Linked DNA regions of Homo sapiens. The protein of the gene in region 2 purifies or fractionates together with the protein of the main gene of each other region. This does not show direct contact. Each region holds a gene or a part of one and is shown on either strand. Other genes may lie near its edges.

Evidence for each region.
Region 1: the proteins of KCNIP1 (region 2) and GALNT7 purify together in Homo sapiens (affinity purification with mass spectrometry; one large-scale study listed by BioGRID and IntAct). This does not show direct contact.
Region 3: the proteins of KCNIP1 (region 2) and APMAP purify together in Homo sapiens (affinity purification with mass spectrometry; one large-scale study listed by BioGRID and IntAct). This does not show direct contact.

What each region holds. Positions count from the first base shown.
Region 1 is NC_000004.12:173,171,693-173,175,349, reverse strand, and holds part of GALNT7 (N-acetylgalactosaminyltransferase 7), read right to left. Parts: intron 1-3,657. UniProt on the Homo sapiens protein: Glycopeptide transferase involved in O-linked oligosaccharide biosynthesis, which catalyzes the transfer of an N-acetyl-D-galactosamine residue to an already glycosylated peptide.
Region 2 is NC_000005.10:170,734,059-170,737,272, forward strand, and holds the end of KCNIP1 (A-type potassium channel modulatory protein KCNIP1), read left to right. Parts: intron 1-1,700; coding exon 1,701-1,748; 3' UTR 1,749-2,574; downstream 2,575-3,214. UniProt on the Homo sapiens protein: Regulatory subunit of Kv4/D (Shal)-type voltage-gated rapidly inactivating A-type potassium channels. Regulates channel density, inactivation kinetics and rate of recovery from inactivation in a calcium-dependent and isoform-specific manner.
Region 3 is NC_000020.11:24,972,103-24,975,759, reverse strand, and holds part of APMAP (adipocyte plasma membrane-associated protein), read left to right. Parts: intron 1-2,022; coding exon 2,023-2,115; intron 2,116-3,657. UniProt on the Homo sapiens protein: Exhibits strong arylesterase activity with beta-naphthyl acetate and phenyl acetate. May play a role in adipocyte differentiation.

The DNA.
Region 1 (3,657 bases), on a different chromosome or scaffold from region 2:
CATCGGACTTGCAATAGAGGGTGGTTGTTACAAATAAACAACCAAATACATGTAGAATATGTATTAGGCCCAAAGTAAGGATTCAATATATGTAAACTATTATTGTTGCTGTTATTACTGAAATCTTTAATTTAGTTACTTTTCAGATTGTACATTCATTCTTCAGGAATGAGAATCGAAATTCAAAATATGAACAAAGACAATTATCTAGTTAGGAGCTGAATAATCACAGTCATTTTCCTTCATTCAATAGCTACTCAAATCTTGCTGACCAACTTTTTTAATAACTCAAGTTAGAATTTCCACATATTCTGTTTACAGATGGCTCAAGCTCAGAATTTTGCTTTTCATTCGTGAATTATTTTCTCTCTTCCTCTTTCTCCAATTTACTATTGTCTAACAGTTTATACAGGAACCCAAATCGTATCTCACACGTTATCTCCCATCCCATGCAACCAGCCTAAGTCACAAAATAGACTGCTGTTCAAAAGTTTTCATTCTCTCTTTACTAGTAACTGTGCATTCCCCAAAGGCCATTTTAAGCCTTCTCCACCTACTGGTTTGACTACTGATGAAACATATCCTTGTGACAGTTCTTGTATTATTTCTTTACATTGCTACTGGATTAAGCAATAGCTCTCCCCACCCCCAACTAGATTGTGAGAGCAGGAACTCCCACTTCAGGTGTTATCAGTATTCTTCATGAGGTCTTAGGGAGGGGAGGATGGGGATGGGGGAGGGGCAAGCAGGTGGTAACAGGGCTGATGCCTGACCTCACATAGACCACTGGATGGAAAACTTTTCCACAGAAGTGATAAATACAACAATTCTTAGGAATTCGCCAAACATTTCCGAAATGTTCAGACCTATGTGGGAGACATAAATGGATGTACCTTAGTTTCTTTGAAAAATATTTAATATGTGCCTTCCATAAAATTAGCACCAGGAAAGATGGAGGAAATACTCAACAAACAGGAAACATGAACCCTGCCTTCAAAGGGCACATGGTCAGTGGCTGGAAGCCTTGTTTGGTTTAGAGGACACTTTAGGAAACATGAAAGCTTCTGATTATCAACCTAGAAAAAAATGTAGATGTATGCAAAAGTTCTGCATTAATTTCAGGAAGTCTATAAACCCCAGACTTCTCAGACTTGGTGATGTGATATTTTTAATCATTATTATGTGTGGGGGGAGAAGGGGGATGGGACACTGAAAACAGCAAAGGAAACAAAAACCAATCCTAAGGTGTATAGCCTGGGAAACTGAGAGAACAGTGACCACTTAAGACACTACACTTTCACTAAGTGATAGCTCCATCCCTAATAGTATAAACAGAGCTTCCATTTGAAGTACAATCTCATGTTCAAGGGCAGAATTTTTCAGGTTACAACTGATCATCACTGAGATAAAATGGCTTTGGTAAGGTGGAACTTGACTGCCAGGGTAATCAGTTCAGCCACTAATCCTCATTTAAGCTATATTCCTTTCAAACCTGTTAGCTTGCCTATCACATAAAACCTCTTGGCCTACTAGTTCCTGAATTAGTCCTATTATATACACCCTGAACCTAAGTGGCATTAATGACTTGACTAAAGTTGCATTTGCATATCCAGAGAGTCATTAGTTTACACACAGCTTCTCACCAGTACTGAATGTTTTAATGCAGGGGTCCCCAACCCTGGGTCATGGAGCATAAACCCTATTGTGAACTGCATGCAAGGGATCCGGGTTGCACACTCCTTATGAGAATCTAATACCTAATGATCTGAGGCGGAACAGTTTCATCCCCAAACCATCCCCCACCCAACCCAACTCCCCCAGTCTGTGGAATAATTGTCTTTGACAAAACCAGTCCCTGGTGCTAAAAAGGTGGGGGACTGCTGTTTTAATGGATCTGTCAACATTTCCTTTAAAAACCTTTATTTTCAGAGGCTTATGGGTCAACTGTAGACAGTCACTCAGGGCTAAAACCTGGGATAAATGGTGTTAGTCTGGGACATAATTTATTTAATTAAAGGAACTTTCTGTGCTTTGCAAGTCCAAGCAGATAATCTTAATAAATGCTGACCTTAAAATATCCAGAGGGCAAAGACTAAAAAAAAAAAAGCTTCCCATAATCATAAAATACAATACAAGAAGGTATACATTTTGCTTTGAGAACTTTCCATAATGAAACAAATAATCTATCATCCTAGGCCTCCTGACACCTTCACTACCATATCCAATAGCCAAATCCTGATGCCTTTGCATCTTTAGGAGCTCTTGAATCAATTTATTTTTTTCTATCTCTACCACCGCCCTGCCAATCTAAGCAAGGATTATGTCCCACCTGAATAATGATGACCCCCACCAGGACTCCTGCTACCTGTTCTATAGACAAATACATACTTTCTGTAGGCAGCCAGAGTGATCTTTTCAAAACACAAATCCACTCTTCCCTACTTAAAATCTTTCAACGGCTTCTCACCGCACTTAAGATCTCCTCCTTAGCATGGACTACGAGACCCATGCTTTCCTGTGTGGCATCATTCTACTTGTCATTCTCCACGTTCCAACAATATTTATCTCCTAGTTTCTCACTATTTCACTCATGCTACCTCCTGCCTCAGGACCTTTGCCCAAATGCTCCTTCTCAAGAATGCTGCCACCCACTTCCAGATTAACTACTTTTCTTGAAATGTTCAGATTTCGCCTCAAAAGTCAGAGTAGGCAGCTAGGCAGACATGAGCAGGGCAGGAAAGGCCCCCCACCACCAGGAATGTCAGGCGGCCATCAGGTGATGGTCAGGCCGTTGTTAAACTGTCTCTCTGAAATAATAATTGGTCGCGCCAACACCATGGAAAGGCAGTCTCCCATTAGATAGAAAACACCTAAAGCTGGTTATCAGCAGGTTCCCACTAAGATCTCAGGAGTTGGGCAAGTGGGCTCCAGCATGTGCACTAATAGGCAAAATGGCAGCTTTTAACTAGTATATGCCCTTCCTCTAGGAAGGCTCAAATTGTAAGGGAAAAATGCCTCAAGTGAGCATGAGTAAAACTTCAGTAAACACACTGCAGGCAGCCCCTCCCCGCTGCTGGCAGGCCACTGCGCATGCAGACAGCCCACCCCAAGGGAAGAATCACGGGAGAAGAAACGCAAACCCTGGAATCATGCCAATGTATAAAACCCCAAGTCCAGGGTCAGACGAGGTACTTGGATTTCTCAAGTAGCCCACATGGCCTTCTTCAAAGTGTACTTCCTTCCGTTCCTGCTCTAAAGCTTTTTAATACTCTCACTCCTGCTCAAAAATTTGCCTCGGTCTCTCACTCTGCCTTATGCCCCTCCAATAAATTCTTTCCCACAGGAGGTAAGAATCGAGTTGCTTCAGACCTGTGTGGATTTGCTACTGCTAATAGTCATTTCTTCAAGTAAGGCTTTTATGACCAAATTCCTCCATTTTCTTGCCCCCTATGGTTTTCACTATGAAAGCAGTAGCACAATTTTTATTTATATATTTATCGAGGTTTGATTGCTGTGTGGTTTTTACAAGATCCATGAGATTAAGGACAAGGAGTATTTCCTTAACAACTAGTACCATGCCTGGTATATAATTGGCACTCAAAAATGTTCAAATAAATCAATATTTAAAATCACACAACAGAATATGATCGGAAATGT
Region 2 (3,214 bases):
TCCTCAACCTGACCTGCAGTTGGTCTTGGCTAAGCACAAGACTGAACAGAGAGCCTAAGTAGGGGTCTGGGGGCATGTGAAAACTCAGAGGGGGTCTCTGTGAAAATAGACTTCCCGAGAGGGCAACACCATTATTTTTTAGCCTGCCTCTGGCTTGATGACCCATTTCCCAGACTACAAGGAAGCAGCTGGGGGGAAAAAAACCTACAATTGTGTGATTCTCAAACCACAGTGTGCATAAAAATTGCCTGGAATGATTCTGAAAATGCATATTTCCAGGCCTCAATCCCAGAGACTCTAGATCTGGGTCACTTTAACACAAATGTCCTGGACCAATGCTTCTAACACTTTAATGTGTGAAACAATATCCTTGATGATTTTGTTAAAATGCAGATTCTAATTCCATAGGTCTGGGGTAGGGCCTGAGATGTTACTTTTCTCACATTCTCCCCAGTCACACTGGTGATGCTGATCCTGGGAACACAACTTTCATTAAGTCTAACCAATAGACCAGCCCCAGAGTCCACCAGAGACTGAACTGGAAATAATTGCTTCATCTACTTTTGAGAAATCCATTTGTACCCCCACATTATTTTAGAAATGTTCAGAGTTACTCTGAGCTCCAGCCAAGAAGAATAGCAAATGTAAGAAAGCCGGGGAGAAGTTCCTAGCAGATACTGAGCCCCCATCAAGTTTCAAGCACATACATAAACATCACAGCCACCCTGTTATGTAGATGTCCTATGTGCAGGGTGATATCCAAGATATTTAACAACTAGAATGGAATGAACACTGACCCCCTTGGGGGTGAGTTCTCACTGTTAATTCCCTTGAGAGCTGGTTGTAAAACAGCCTGGCACCTTCCCCACCTCCAACCTTGATTCCTCTCCCACCATGGGATCTCTGCACACCCAGCTTCCCTTCACATTCCACTGTGAGTGGAAGCAGCCTGAAACCCTCACCAGATGCAGATGCCCAGCTGAACTTTCCAGCTGCCAGAATAATGAGCCAAATAAGCCTATACTGACATTAACCTTTTCATTTCTGATATTGATAATTTGAAAAGCAGTCTTAATAAGCATTTATCTACTTTATTGATTTTTTTGAAAGAGAGCGCTTTGGGGGGTTTTCTTACTGTATGTCTCTATTGCATGTTCTGTATTTTACATTTTTCTATTATTTCTTCTCTGAGGTATAGTATTGAATGTAGAAAAATCCTCAAATGTTCGGTATTAAGCAATACACTTCTAATTCATGGTTCAGAGAAGAAAATATCTCGAATAAAAATAAAATAAAAATATGACTTATCAAAATTTGTAGGATCTAAAGCAGTATTCCAGGAATGCAAGGTTGGTTTAACATTCAATAATTGGTCAGTGTAATTAATCACATTAATAGAATAAAAAGAGAAAAAATATAATCATTTCAGTGGATGTAATTGTTCAGAGCTTCTTAAAAGAAGCAACTCACTATTTTACTAGATGATTTGTTTCTTCTGAATTCCTCTTTAAGGCTACAGGTGGTGCTTCTTACTTTGAACTGATCACTTTCTAGGTCCCCACCCTTACTTCTTGTTTTTCATACCCTTGTAGAGTTTTCTCCATATAGGAAACCCATGCTTGACATTTGCTCACCAGAGTTACAGAGCTCTCAGGGAGGAGACTCAGAGTTCTAACCCTCTTGCCCTCCTTTTTTCCCAGGACGACAACATCATGAGGTCTCTCCAGCTGTTTCAAAATGTCATGTAACTGGTGACACTCAGCCATTCAGCTCTCAGAGACATTGTACTAAACAACCACCTTAACACCCTGATCTGCCCTTGTTCTGATTTTACACACCAACTCTTGGGACAGAAACACCTTTTACACTTTGGAAGAATTCTCTGCTGAAGACTTTCTATGGAACCCAGCATCATGTGGCTCAGTCTCTGATTGCCAACTCTTCCTCTTTCTTCTTCTTGAGAGAGACAAGATGAAATTTGAGTTTGTTTTGGAAGCATGCTCATCTCCTCACACTGCTGCCCTATGGAAGGTCCCTCTGCTTAAGCTTAAACAGTAGTGCACAAAATATGCTGCTTACGTGCCCCCAGCCCACTGCCTCCAAGTCAGGCAGACCTTGGTGAATCTGGAAGCAAGAGGACCTGAGCCAGATGCACACCATCTCTGATGGCCTCCCAAACCAATGTGCCTGTTTCTCTTCCTTTGGTGGGAAGAATGAGAGTTATCCAGAACAATTAGGATCTGTCATGACCAGATTGGGAGAGCCAGCACCTAACATATGTGGGATAGGACTGAATTATTAAGCATGATATTGTCTGATGACCCAAACTGCCCATGTCATTTGTTTCCAGAAACGAGGACCAATAATTCTCTCACACTGGCATTTGTGCTGGTAGTACAAGTCCTTTAATATGTCCAGGAAGGGAGCCATTGCCCAGTGGTCCATATCTCCACCACATCCCCTGCTTGAGCCCAGCGCTGCATGTCCCTCCCAAGAAGTCCAGAATGCCTGCAAATTGCTGTAATTTTATACCATGTTCTAACCAATAAACAGAACTATTTCTTACACTCTCAATCACTTCTTCATGACTCCGTTAGGTAAGAGAGGTAAGCTGTGAAAAGGGAAGGCTAGTCCATTCATTTGACACCCAATTATTAGTGCAGTTGTCCCTCCATATGTGTGAAGGATCAGTCCCAGGACTCTCCATACCAAAATCTGCAGATACTCAAGTCCCACAGCTAGCCCTGAGGGACTCGTGTTTTCAGAAAATTTGGCCTCCATATATGCAGGTTTCACATCCTATAAATACTGCATTTTCTATCACTTTTGGTTGAAAACAATCTGCATGTAAGTGGACCCAATAAGTTTAAACTCATGTTGTTGGAGGGTCAACTGTACTTACGTTGTGCCAGGCCTGTGCCAGGCAATGACTTCATCCTCCCCAGCCCCCAAGCCTTCCCCAGCAAACATCCAATCCAAATGCAAATACTGTGACCAAATGCAAATGCAACTTCGAGACAAGACCCTTCACAACACTTTGCTTCCAACAAGATTGCCACTTCTAAGACCCTCTGATATGGAAAGCCTGGAGCCCCTGTGGTGTGAGTGGGAGTGCAGAGATAAAGAGGATGACGGGGCCTCCTGCTGAGAGATTTTAGGCTCTAGAGGACCATCAAGCGGCTTCAGCCTATAACCAGCAAATGATTACTCATGT
Region 3 (3,657 bases), on a different chromosome or scaffold from region 2:
GTAGTTTCAGTCCTCTGACTTTATTCTTTTCCTTCAATATTGTATTGGATATTTTGAGTCTTCGCCCTCTCCATATGAACTTTAGGATTCATTTGTCTGTATCTACAAAATAACTTGCTGGGATTTTGATTGGGATTGCATTGAATCTATAGATTAAGGTTGGGAAAAACTGACATCTTGACAATATTGAGTATTCCTGTCCATGAACATGGAATATCTCTCCATTTATTTAGTTCTTTGATTTCTTTCATCAGAATATTCTAGTTTTCCTCATATAGACCTCGTGTATATTATATTATATTTATACCTAAGTATGCCAATCTTTTGGATGCTAATGTACATAGTATTGTGTTTTCAATTCCAAATTCCATTTGTTCATTGTTAGTATAAAGGAAGGTGAGTCAATATCTTGCAATATCCTGCAACCATGCTATAATTGCTTGGTTCCAGGAGGGTTTTTTGTTGTTGTTGATTCTTTCAGATTTTCTATCTAGACAATTATGTCACTTGCAAACAAAGAAAGTTTTATTTCTTTCTTCTCAATCTGTATACCTTTTGTTTCCTTTTCATGTCTTACTGCATTAGCTAGGTCTTCAAGTATGATACTGAAAAGGAGTGGTGATAGGGGCATCTTTGCCTTGTTCTTGATCTTAGCAGGAAAGCTTCTAGTTTGTCATCCATAAGTATGATGTTATATGTAGATTTTTTTATAGATATTCTTGATCAAGTTAAGAAAGTTTCCCCTCTACTCCCAGCTTGCTGAGAGTTTTTAATCATGAATGGGTGTTGGATGTTACTAGATGTTTTTTTCTGTATCTGTTGATATGATCATGTGATTATTCTTGTTTAGATTGTTGAAGTCTCTAACTGTGATAGTGGATTCTGTTTCTCCTTGCAGTTTCATCAGTTTTTGCCTCACATATTGGTGCTCTATTGTGAAGCATATACACATTAAAGGTTCTTATGTTTTTTTGAGGCATTGACCCCTTTGTCATTGTGTGATGCTCCTCTTTATCCCTGATAACTTTCCTTGGTCTGAAGTGTTCTCTGTCTGAATTTAATACAGCTATTCTGGGTTGCTTTTGGTTAGTGTTAACATGATGTACTTTCTTCATCCCTTCACTTTTAATCTATATATGTCTTTATATTTAAAGTGGGTTTCTTGTACACAACATAGAGTTGGGTCTTGTTTTTTGAATAATTCTGGCAATGTCTCTCTTTCAGTTGGTATATTTAGACCATTTATGTTTAAAGTGATTATTGATATATTGGATTAATATCTACCGTATTTGTTACTGTTTTCTATTCTTTGCCCTTATTCTTTGTTTCTATTTTTGCATTCTACTCTCTTTTTGTCTTTTGTAGTTTTAAACTGAGTATTTTATATGATTCCATTTTCTCTCCTTTCTTAGCATATCAGTTATACTTCTTTTTTTTACTTTTTGTAGTGGTTACCCTTGAGTTTGCAATATACATTTGAAAACTATGGAATGTTTTATGAATTTGTGTATCATCATTGCTCAAGGGGCATGCTAGTAGTCTTCTCTGTATCATTCTAATTTTAGTATATGTGCTGCTGAAGTAAGCACTTAATGTGCTGTAATTTTCTTCTAAAGGATTTCTGGCAGTTCTTCTCCTTTAGTTGGATATAATCAATATCAGCAGCAGACACTGATGTGAGGTGAATATGAACTCATGCCCCTAAGTGCTGAGTGTCAGCTTGAGTGCTTCAGGACTGGAGAAAATCCTCACAGTTCTCATCACTGACTGGTATCTGCTGCACCCTTGCTTTTGAGTCAGGTTCATGCCCACAGGCTGCTTCCCTAGGCCCCCGCAGTTTTATCACTGTAAGTTTTAAGGATTTTTCATATTCCCAGAAATTGCTTCTCTTCCATCTTGAGAATTGGCATTTCCTCTATAGGGCAGGGGGAACATGTAAACAAGCCCTCTTGTAGGAGAAGGCGGCTTAGTCACATTTCTTAGGCTAACATTGCTCTTCCTCCTTTTTGTGTTTTTAAACAGATGTGATGTTTACTGGGACAGCAGATGGCCGGGTCGTAAAACTTGAAAATGGTGAAATAGAGACCATTGCCCGGTTTGGTTCGGGCCCTTGCAGTAAGTTGGTGATAATCCCTCGATGTGTCTCTTCCAGTCTTTCAGAAAGATGTTGGATCGTTGTGTGGAACTGCTTTTCCCTAGAATGCCTGTGGGAGAAAAAGAACCTCTGACCATCTAGTAGATGGAACATGACGTCACTACGAGCTCTTCATTTGCCGGGTGGTCCTTGGGCCTCACGGTGCCTGATGGTCACCTACAGTCCCCATTTTGCAGCTGGGTAGTGGCTGTGGCCCCTGCTTGGTACTGCATGGGCCTCGCCCCTCACCATTTTATTGGGGTCCCCGTTTACCTTTGCGGTACTTCAGAGGCTAATAGGTGTTATCACAGTGCTGCTGTGGAAAAGTAGGTGGCCTTGTCATTACTTGGATGTGTAAGTGTTATTCTGCCTTGGTCTCAGGAATTTCAGCCCTGTAAGTGAGAATACCCTTAAGTCATTCAAATTTTGGAAAACTAGAGTAGAAGACTCACTGTTTAAAACTGATAGTCTATAGACTTAATAGTTATCATTTTTTAATAGCTGGAATGTTTTTATTAAAGTGATGTATTTTCATAAACACAAACAACACAAAGGTACAAAGGAGAAAATAAAAATCACCTGAGTCTTTTCAGATGTAATTGTTATGAACATTTTAGTGGTTCACTTTTCAGACATCTTTTTGTTCATGGACATGCACACCCACACGTATGATGGAATTATACCCTACATCAGTTCTTTAACCTGCCTTTTTCCGTGCCATTTTGGCAGTAAGCACCCTGCAGTGAGCATCCCACAGTGAACACCCTGCAATAAGCATTTGCAGTGAGCACCCATGGTCAGCACCTACAATAGCACCTGGAGTGATCACCCATGGTGAGCACCCTACAGTAAGCACCTGCAGTGAGCACCCCACAGTGAACACCCTGCAGTAAGCACCTACAGTGAGCACCTATAGTGAACACCTGCAGTGGTACTTGCAATGAGCACCCTACAGTTAATGACCCACAAAAGCACCTGTAGTGAGCACCCTGCAATAAGCACCTGTAGTGAGCACCCCACAGTGAACACCCTGCAATAAGCACCTGTAGTGAGCACCTTCAGTGAGGACCCCACAGTGAACACCTTGCAATAAGCATCTGCAGTGAACACCCCACAGTGAACTCCCTGCAGTAAGCCCCTGCGGTGAGCACCCCACAGTGACCACCCTGCAATAACACCCTGCAATAAGCGCCTGCAGTGAGCACTCCACTTGAACACCCTGCAGTAAGCACCTGCAGTGAGTACCTCACAGTGAACACCCTGCAATAAGCACCTGCAGTGAGCACCCCACAGTGAACATCTTGCAATAAGCCCCTGTGGTGAGCACCCCACAGTGAACACCCTGCAATAACACCCTGCAATAAGCACCTGCAGTGAGCACTCCACTTGAACACCCTGCAGTAAGCACCTGCAGTGAGTACCTCACAGTGAACACCCTGCAATAAGCACCTGCAGTGAGCACCCCACAGTGAACACCTTGCAATAAGCACCTGCAATGAGCACCCCACAGTGAACACCCTGCA